2 separate regions of the Homo sapiens genome follow, and region 1 is linked to region 2. Evidence: fine-mapped expression QTL. A gene starts in region 2. The other region holds a variant in brackets. All regions are shown on one strand. Distances are between the middles of the regions. Region 1 has its middle 37 kb from the start of BFSP2-AS1. Region 2 holds the start of CDV3 (CDV3 homolog).

The links.
Region 1: its variant is fine-mapped to the expression of CDV3 in pituitary (GTEx, PIP 0.98).

Annotation. Positions count from the first base shown.
Region 1 is chr3:133,525,352-133,530,726 of GRCh38, forward strand. No RefSeq gene overlaps it. Among named protein-coding and RNA genes, the nearest start is that of BFSP2-AS1, 37 kb to the left of the region's middle. The variant C/T (reference allele first, on the strand shown) is at 2,241.
Region 2 is chr3:133,570,338-133,575,712 of GRCh38, forward strand. CDV3 (CDV3 homolog) reads left to right here and starts at 3,349. Exons shown (of 5, transcript NM_017548.5): 1 at 3,349-3,947; 2 at 4,702-4,778. The coding sequence starts at 3,708. RefSeq lists enhancers at 2,338-2,577, 2,520-3,021, 2,678-2,847 and silencers at 3,228-3,767, 3,788-3,897, 3,928-4,317.

The sequences.
Region 1 (5,375 bases), 45 kb before region 2:
ATCAAAGTGGGATTTTTCTCTTTTTTGTTTTTAATAACTCCAAGTGTTGACAATGTGCAAGGGAATAAGCATGTTCAGATATTATTTGTGAGAATATAATTTGGCACAAATTTTCCAGAGAACAATTTGACAATATATAACAAAAACCTTAAAAGTTTGCTTACCCTTTGACCTAGAAATTCTACTGCCAGAAATGTATTCCAGGGATGTGCAGAGAGACTTAGTGAAGATTGTTTATTGCAAGGTCTGTAATAATAAACCACTGGAAACAATCTAAGGGTTTGACTATGGAGGATTAGCTAAACACAGTATGCTGTCCAACTGATGACCTTGCAGTCACTTGAATATTACAAAAACACATGAGGACATGGAAAGATGTTTGTGACATATAGGGAAGTGAAAAAAAGCAAGTCTGCATATTCAATAAGTCTCAATTACTGAGTATATTTCAGTAAGTAAGTGAGACTTACTGAATATATTTCAGTATATCACTATATATATATTTACTTAATATCAAGCAAATATATTCAGCAAATCTCACTTTCTATTTTTAAAAAATTTTTACACATAAATATATGCACGAGAAAAAAGGTCATAGTAATTATCCAAAATATTAACAGCAGTTGTTGCCAGCTAGTTAAATTAAGAGTAATTTTTATTTTCTTCCTTTTGTTTATCTGGCTTTTCATAATTTTATTTATTTATTTATTTATTTTTTGAGACAGAGTCTAGCTCTGTCGCCCAGGCTGGAGTGCAGTGGCGCAATCTCGGCTCGCTCACTGCAACCTCCACCTCCCAGGTTCAAGTGATTTTCCTGCCTCAGCCTTCTGAGTAGCAGGTATTACAGGTGACTGCCACCAAGCCCGGCTAATTTTTTTATTTTTAGTAGAGATGGGGTTTCGCCATGTTGGCCAGACTGGTCTCGAACTCCTGACCTCAAGTGATCTGTCCACCTTGGCCTCCCAAAGTGTTGGGATTACAGGAGTGAGCCACCGCACTAGGCTCATAATTTTCTGTAAGAATCCCACATTACTTTTTAGGGGAAAAATGTTTAATAACAATGCCTTTTTTTCTTTTTTTTTTTGAGGCAGAGTTTCACTCTTGTTGCCCAGGCTGGAGTGCAATTGTGCGATCTCGGCTCACTGCAACCTCTGCCTCCCAAGTTCAAACAATTCTCCTGCCTCCGCCTCCTAAGTAGCCGGGATTACAGGCATGCGCCACCACCCCCCTCTAATTTTGTATTTTTAGTAGAGACAGGTTTTCTCCATGTTGGGCAGGCTGGTCTTGAACTCCCAACCTCAGTGATCCGCCCACCTCGGCCTCCCAAAGTGCTGAGATTACAGGCGTGAGCCACCGTGCCCAGCCAACAATGCTTTTAACTGGCTTGCCAGATAAAATGCACCATGGGACATACTTACATTAAAATATTATTTATTATTTGTATAAAATTTAAATTTAACTGAGTGCCCTGAATTTTTCTTTACTAAATCTGGCAAGCCCACTTTTAATGTGAAGTAATAAAAGAAAGATCTGGGTGCTGGAACCAAATGGGCTGGCCTCTGTGAAGATAGGAGAGGAATTATTATTCCAAGTCTTTTAAATAAGAACATCAGGATTTTGGTGAAATAAGGAGGGAAAACCAATTTGAGAGCCACACAGTCCTTGTCTCAAATCTGGAGTCTACTATCACCATCACCACCACCACCATCATCCCACCTCACTCCCCTCTCTGTGTCCTGATCTGGATGTCCTGAAGCAAGTTATTTGTTTCCCCCCATTCTCAGTAATAGTGCGTATCTTCCAAGGATTAAATGAGAACATGTGTGTAAAGGCACCTTGTAAATTGCAAACTGCCAAACAGCAGGTTATTATCATGTTAGTAAATTACACACACAAGGACATGTCAAACAGGAACAAAACATCTGCCACAGACAACCACAGAATTGTTCCTTGCAGCACATTTTTGATGGCTCTCTGAGGTCAAAACAACTCAAGGTTTAGTCACTCCAGTGCTGAACCCATATATTAATATCTATCCAAATTGTTCTATGATCCTATTTATAGCTGCACTGATCATTAAATGTTGTTGGAACATTTTGCCTCAAGTCAGTTGTTAAATTGCTTGGCGAGTAGTGTGCAACGCGTGGCTCAGGGGAAGCCTGTGTGGTTTATGAGTTTGGCAGCTCATAACTCCAGGGCCTCACCTTATCCTCACACACTAGTCCTGGTCACCTTGGAAA[C/T]TGCCCTATTCTAGATGCAGAGCACAGGACGCCCTGGCTGACATGGAATTAATCAGCAGCCACCTTCTCTACTGGTCTCTGTTACTGGAAAAACGTCAGTGCCTCTCAAGCCACTTTAGGGAGGATCCATGGCAGAGTTTTAAGGATCTTCCAGGGAAAATTAATATAAGAGTCTGGGTTTTATGAGAAAATGGAAAAATAAGACAAGCAAGAAAGAAATTAAGAAAGAAAGAGGAAAAGACAGAAATAAGAAGAAAGAGAAAAAAAATAAGGAGAAGAAAAAAACCAGAAGATTATTATCCCATTTTACAGATGAGGAAACTGAAACTCAGATGCCCAAAGTTACTAAGCAAATAAGTATCAGAGCTCTGTTTCAAATCCAAGATAAACAAAATTCCTTCAGGAGAAAAAACTCCCCCCAAGAAGAATGAATTTTACAGATGTCCAAAGACGTAAAGAGACAATCACCTGTGTTTATGTCCTTCAGCTAGAGAGTAAATTCCAAAATTCCATGAAAATATATGAGGATACCCCATTGGATGGACATTTTTTAAAGTGAAAAGGCTCAAAGCCAGCAAAATGTGTTACTGAAACTCGTGCATGCAGATATGGTTGGTGACAACAAAAAGCAATTTGTAAAATTTAACAGGAGTCATAAAAATGTTACTAGTTTGTTCCAGTTACTGTTGCCTATAACAAATTACCCCAAAAATTTAGCAGCTTAAAATAACCATTTAATGATATCCATGGATTCTGTGTGTCAAGAATCTAGACAAGGCACAGTGGGGTGGCTTATCTCTGCTCCTCAATGGGTAGGGCTTCAGCTGGGAAGACTCTATGGCTGCGAGGACTTAGTGGCTAGGGTTGGAACATCCAAAGGCTCGACTGGGCTGAAAAATCCTAGATGGCTGCCAGTTGGTGTTAGCTGTTGGCCAGGAACTCAACTGGGCTATCCTGGAGAGCATCTATCTGTGGCCTCTCTAGCATGGTGATCTCGAGGTAGTTCAACTTTGTGGCTGACTCTCCCAGGAGAAAGAATCAGGCAGCAGCTTCATGGCATTTTCTGACCAGTCACACAGTATCACTTTCACTGCATTCCCTCAATTGAATCGGTCACAGCTGGACACAGTGGCTTCGGCCTGTAATCCCAGACTTTGGGAGGCCAGGGCAGGAGGATCACTTGAGCCCAGAAGTTCGAGACCAGCCTGAGCAACACAGGGAGAACCTGTCTCTACAAAAAATTTTTTAAAAATTAAAATTACCCAGGCGTGGTGGTGTGCACCTGTAATCCCAGCTACTCAGGAGGCTGAAGCAGGAGGATCACTTAAGCCGAGGAGGTCGAGGCTGCAGTGGGCCATGATGGTGCTGTTGCACTCCAGCCTGGGTGACAGAGTGACACCTGTCTCAAAATCAAAATAAAAATTGTTTTTAAAAGTGTTGAATATTGGCCGGGCACAGTGTCTCACACCTGTAATCCCAGCACTGTGGGAGGCCAAGGCAAGCTGATCACTTGAGGTCAGGAGTTCGAGACTAGCCTGGCCAACATGGCAAAACCCCATCTCCACTAAATATACAAAAATTAGCCAGGTGTGGTGATCCACACCTGTAATCCCAGCTACTCGGGAGGCTGAGGCAGGAGAATCGCTTGAACCCAGGAAGTGGAGGTTGCAGTGAGCCAAGATCACACCACTGCACTCCAGCCTGGGTGACAGACTAAGACTTTGTCTCAAAAAAAAAAAAAAAAGGCTGCACACTGTGGCTGACGCCTGTAATCCCAGCACTTTGGGAGGCCAAGCTGGGCGGATTACCTGGGTTGGAAGTTCAAGACCAGCTTGGCCAACACGGTGAAACCCTGTCTCTACTAAAAATACAAAAAATTAGCTGGGTGCAGTGGCACATGCCTGTAATCCCAGCTACTCAGGAGGCTGAGGCAGGAGAATCACTTGAACCTGGGATGCAGAGGTTGTGGTGAGCCAAGATCGTGCCACTGCACTCCAGCCTGGGTGACAGAGCAAGACTCCATCTCAAAAAAAAAAAAAAAAGGGTTGAATATCTTATGGAATTTATTGACTAAGTACTGAATGTGTATTGCTTTTACACCATAGTAAAGTTGAAAAATTGTAAGCCAAGCCATTGTAAATCAGAGTCTGTCTATATATATGTAGAGTCAAAGACCGAGAGGAAACACAAAGATGAAAACAGTTGCTGTTTACAGGACTGGAATTATAGGTGACTTTTTTCTCCCTTCTTTGTTTCAGAATTACTGTTGTTTAACTTCTTTATAATAATTTCTGAAATTGTCAAAGTCTAGGATAAAAAACAGCCACAGAAAATGAGAGCAACAGGGAGAGAGAAGAGGATGTGTGGGGAGTGTATCAGTCAGCTACTGCTATGTAACAAACCACCCCAGAACTCTGCATCTTAACAATTATTATTGATTGTTAAGCTCACTTGTGTGAGTCAGCTGAGGTATGGCCAATCTACGCTGAGCTTACTCATGCATCTGTGGGTTGGTTGGAGGATCTTCTCTAGGCTGGGTTTGTCCGGGGCAGCTCTGTTCCCCATGTTCCCTAGTGGGCTATGGGGAGCCATATTCTTCTCATGGTGATGGCAGAGGTGTACAAAGATAAGCAGAAACACCTGAGGTCTCTTGAGACCTAAGTGCAGAACTCAAGTGTGTTCACTTCTGCATTACTGACATAACCAAACCCAAAGTTTAGAGCCAGGTGGAATTCACAGAGAGAAGACACTGCCAAGTTACATTGCAAAGGATGTGGATACAGGAAGGGATGATAAATAGGGACCAATAACATCATCTAACTACAGGAAAGGAAAGGAAAATGAGAGATTGGACAGGATGAGAAGCAGTTCAAGGCAGGAGGTTCAAGGACACAGTGGATAACAGTTATTCTCTCATACTCCCCAAACCGGACCCCAACACACACACACACACACACACACACACACACACACACACACACACACACAAGAAGCATCTAGTCGTCTACCTAATATCCATTGCTTTTCTCCTATACAAAAAGAAATCTGACCCAGCTCCAGTCAGAGGGGATAGTTCCTACCTGGTCTAAGCTAATCTTTGCAGTCCATTTGCCTGGTGAGTGATTGGTTTAGGAT
Region 2 (5,375 bases):
CTCAGCAGAAAAGAACTCAGAAACAATGGGGCTGGGCTCAACTGCCCTTTGCCAGCTCTTGAGCTCATGGAATATTGGAACTCAGCAGGCCTTGTTGAGGGAGATATATGATGTCCTTCGGATTGCACCACTTCAGAGGACCCAGAGGGAAACTGCCATGTTCAGACAGCATTAGGAACCTTGGAAGATGTGCAGAAATACCTGGGAATAGTCTGCATTACTATACAAGTTTTCCATCTGGCAAGTACAAGTGAAAGTCTGTTTGCTTTAAGTATGCAGACGGTCCAAACACATTGGACAGCAGAGGGGAAGACACCTCTGTCAAGAGAGAGCTGGAGGAGCCGGGCACAGCGGCTCCTACTTGTGATCCCAGCTACTCAGGAGGCCAAGGCAGCAGGATCAATTGAGCCCAGGAGTTCCAGACCAGCCTGGGCAACATAGCAAGATCCCTTTCTCTAAAAATGTAAAAAAAAAAAAAAAAAAATTCAGCTGTACATGATGGCACCTGCCTGTAGTCCCAGCTACTCTGGAGGCTGAAGCCAGAGGATTGCTTGAGCCCCGCCTCTTAAAAAGAAAAAAAGAGAGAGAGGGCAGAAGGATGCTTCAAAGATGAGGGGGTGTCTGGTAACGATGATAATGATAGCATGATTCAGGGCACTGTGCAACCAATCTGGAGAAGGGTGGTAGGGGAGGTTTAAAAGGAGCAACTGATGGGAACAGATGCTGTCAATTTTAGGGCAGGTGATTCAAAGAGGAAGGGACCAGCTTCACAGAGGAGAGAATTACTACAAACAATGACACAACCACAAAGACACTGGTCTCTCTACTGGCCTGACCTGAATTTCTTACACATGATCAAGTTCTGGGATCATGCCATCAATCACACTGAAAAATGTAGTGGGAAATTCTGCAGCGTCAGCCCTCAACTACTGTTCCTTCTGTGTATTTTCTCAAGTCATTAATTCTTTCAAGACAATGATGAATTGATAAGGACTTAAGAAAGATATAAATAACTGAAACTTATTTATATCTAGATCTTCTCTTCTAGATTATAAGGGAATTGAATGCAGGAATCACAAATTACTCACTTTTGAATAAAGCACTTTGCCCGAAATATAGCAAAATAAGTGCTTCATAGATGAGGAAAGAAAGAGAGGGAGAGGGCCGGGCATGGTGGCTCACACCTGTAATTCCAGCACTTTGGGAGGCTGAGGTGGGTGGATCACGAGGGTCAGGAGTTTGAGACCAGCCTGGCCAACATGGTGAAACCCCGTCTCTACTAAAAATACAAAAATTAGCTGGGTGTGGTGGCGGGTGCCTGTAATCCCAGCTACTCAGGAGGCTAAGGCAGGAGAATCGCTTGATCCTGGGAGGCAGAGGTTGCAGCGAGCTGACATGCCATTGCACTCCAGCCTGGTGACAAGAGCAAGACTTTGCCTCAAAAAATAAGTAAGTAAATAAATAAATAAATAAATGAAAGAGAGGGAGGGAGGAAGGAAGAAAGAGGGGGGAGGAAGAAAAGAAGGAAAGAAAAGAGGAAGGGAGAAAAAAGAAGGAAAGAAAAAAAAGAAAGAAAATAAATTTGATTAGCGATGGTAAGGGAGGGTGATGGTGATGGGCAGTACTGAACCTGGCCTGCATCACAGGAAGATATATGTTGTCATAGAAGGAAGTCACCTTGGGAGCTGTTCATGTTTGGGGAATAGTATATGTATAAGCTCAAGCTACTTGCTGGCCAAGGCTAGGTCCTTGATTTCTTTTGACATTCAGAAGTTAGACTTTTTTTTTTTTTTTGAGACGGAGTTTCACTGTTGTTGCCCAGGCTGGATTGCAATGAGGCGATCTCGGCTTACTGCAACCTCCGCACCCCCGGGTTCAAGCAATTCTCCAGCCTCAACCTGTAGCTGGGATTACAGGCGTTAGCCACTACGCCCGGCTAATTTTCGTGTTTTTAGTAGAGACGGGGTTTCATTATTTTGGTGAGGCTGGTCTCGAACTCCTGACCTCAGGTGATGCGCCTGCCTCGGCCTCCTGAAGTGCTGGGATTACAGGCGTGAGCCACCGCGCCCAGCCAGAAGTTAATTCTTTAATAGCAGTGTAAGTAGGGGGTAGGAAAAGAGAAACTTTAATGGGGTAACTGTAAAGGAAAAGACGAAGAAGTCTCTCCATTTACTGGCTGGATTCTATCTACCCCATATGGCTACCAACATTTGTCTGAGTCATTTCCTCAATGGTTGTGACAGCTCCCTCTTCTGCTTTTAGAAGGAGGAAGTAGAAAGTTTAAGAGCTTACTTTAGACCACCTTTTGCATATAGAATTCATTTCATTTTCAAGGCCCCAAGGGTATTTAAATGGGCTTTAAACCCATTTAAACCTGGCTTTCGCCTGGGCATTTTGGTCTCCACCCCTATGATAAGACAGTCCCCTCCTTTTATCAGGGATAGAAGCTAAGGATAAACTGTATCATCATCTAGACTCAAGTCAGGGCGTTAAGCAATGTGCTGAGCAGCTAATAATGTTGACTCTCTTCCCTCCATCCCCCTATCTTGTAAGAAATAGTATACCCACTTTACAGATTAGGGACTTGACGATAGGATTTATTGAACTTGACCTTGGTAAACATAATCCAGAGGGTGGAGTTCAGACAAAATCCCTTTCTACCTACCAACCAGCCTATGAAAGATCTTTTAGTAAATGGGACCTAAACTTCAGGCTCACTGCTCCTCTCACTTTCACAATCAACCGGTAAAGAAGAAAAGTAATGGTTGCCACTCCAGAGGGGGTGGAAGTACAGAAGCGATCAGAGGAGAGGAACAATCTTTAACACAGTTGGCTTAACGCAGTGCCTGTCCGTTTCGCGACAGTTCAAACGACTACTATGGGGCCACGGTTTGTTCTGGGCCAGGAAACACACGTGCATCCTGCGCATGCGTCCAAAAGGAACCCACTGCCCCTCCTGCTGGACCTCTTTAGCCAAGTCATCAACCAGCCCTCAACATGCCCGCCCTCAAGACTAAACCCTCGGCCAATCGGGAAACCGGAGTCGCCCGGCACGTCACTTATTTTGCATATGCCCTCCTCTCCCCGCCCCCATGCTTGGACTCCGCCCCGTCTGGGTCAGGGATTGTCACCTAAGAGCTTCGTCCTGGCACCTGATTGGCTCTCTTTCCAGCTCCGCCTCCATCTCCTCCCGCCGCCCGCCCCTTGGCGATCCCACAGCGGCAGGCAGAGCAAAATACGCAGGCGCAGGCGCTTCCTCTCTCTTCTAGCGGCCCGCCCTCCCTCCTCCCTCTCCCTCCCCTCCCCACTCCCTTCCCCTCCTCTCCAGGCCTGCGCGCGCGCCTCTTCCTCCGGCACGCGCCGCTGCTAGCCGAGCACTCTCGCCAGAACCTCTGGCTCGCGCGTGCCTTTTCCCCTCAGGTTGTGGGGAGAGCGGAATCCTGCTCCGCCGTCGCAGCAGCAGCGGCAGCCCCGGCAGCCTCGGGCGACAGCGGCGGCGCGCGAGCCCCCGGGCGGACCGTACCACCGCTCGCCAGCACGCAGGGGGAGCCGCCCGTCTCGCCGCGCACGCCTCGGCGACCCCGCGGGGCTGAGGCGTCGCCGCGCCCGGCAGCGTGAGCGCAGAGCCGGCCTCGACCCCGAGCTCGGAGCCCCGCGGGCCGCGCCCGCCGCCGGCCCCACCCATCCGGGTCGAGGAGGCCGAGGCCATGGCTGAGACGGAGGAGCGGAGCCTGGACAACTTCTTTGCCAAGAGGGACAAGAAGAAGAAGAAGGAGCGGAGCAACCGGGCGGCGAGTGCCGCGGGCGCAGCGGGCAGCGCCGGCGGAAGCAGTGGAGCCGCGGGTGCGGCGGGCGGCGGGGCGGGCGCGGGGACCCGGCCGGGTGACGGCGGGACCGCCAGCGCGGGGGCTGCGGGCCCAGGGGCCGCCACCAAGGCTGTGACGAAGGTGAGGGGCCGGGAGGCCGGCACTCGGGGCCCGGGCCGCGCGCCGGCGCCCCATGTGCCCGCCCCCGCCTGCCGGGGAAGCGTCCGGGAGGGGCCGCGGAGGCCGGGCGGACGGGCGCGGGCCGCCACGTGACGCAGGCTCTCCACCTCGGGCTGGGCTCGCCAGGGCCGGGACCCCTTCCGATATCCGCGGTGGAGCCGCCCTTCCCACCCCGCGTCGCTCGGCGTTAGCCAAGGCCCGGGCGGCGCCACCCTCCGGGGGCACTAGGTCTGGGGCCGCAGTGCCCAGCACAGAGCAGCGTTTATCGGGTGACGTCTAGGCTGAGTAATTCCGTGTGCTGACCTCAGCCCAGTAGTTTGAGCTGAATTTTCGCTTTCAGCAGCCGCATTTGTAGCAGCTCTTTTGTGATGACTTAGTCTCTAAGCCCGTGAAAGAAAAAGAAAACTCTCGGTGGCAAGGTTGAAGTAGAAATGTAGTTGTGAAATTCCTATTGACTTCTTCCTTCGGCTTTTCTTAGTTGCTTAAAGTAACAGCTCCCATGCAGGAACCCAGCGGAAGTATAGTGTTAGCCTACGAGCATGTTTGTCCTCCATTTAGCCTAGTTTGCCCCAGAACGAAGCAAGGGCTTTGACCAGAAGACAAGTACATACTTAGTTTAGGTTCCAGCCACTTGATCCACTTTTCGTAGTGTGTTATTTGCTTAGTTATATGTCTACAAATAGCTTTAATTGATCAAATGGCGTTTGTTTTACAGGACGAAGATGAATGGAAAGAATTGGAGCAAAAAGAGGTTGATTACAGCGGCCTCAGGGTTCAGGCAATGCAAATAAGGTATAGTCTGGTTACAAATGTGTTTAGATAACCTTTGGGATAGATATTGGATACAAGTTAGGTTTTCCTTTGGCCCCAAAGCAGCATCATAGTAGCCTTGTGCTCTAGATATGCTTATTAGGACTCAAATGGGTTCTGTCTACTCTTTCTCACTCCATGGAGGCAGCCCTTCCGTGTGCTCATGAAATTAGCTGCTGACTCTAAAATCCTGTGAGAGCTTGCCTACTTCCAGTTCTGGTTAGGACTTTTCATTTGAGACAGCTAAAGTGGATTTTGTCGCTTCAAAATTTTTACTTTTAACATCGGTGATTGTACTTAGTTTTGGTTTCAAAAGTAATGTGGATGTTTTTCACATCCTCTCCAATAAGCAAGTGAATATATGTTTTTGTAATTGAAGTATATCATACTTACAGAGAGATAGAGGTTTTATGTGTTCACACAGTGCAACCAACCTGTGCAATAAGCACCAGGTCAAGAAACTGAGTATTACTGATACAGAACAAGGTTCCCCTCCTAACACATACTCACTGCATTCACCTTCAACATAACCACTATTCTAACACCATAATTTTTTCTAAAACTTCATAGGAATGGAAT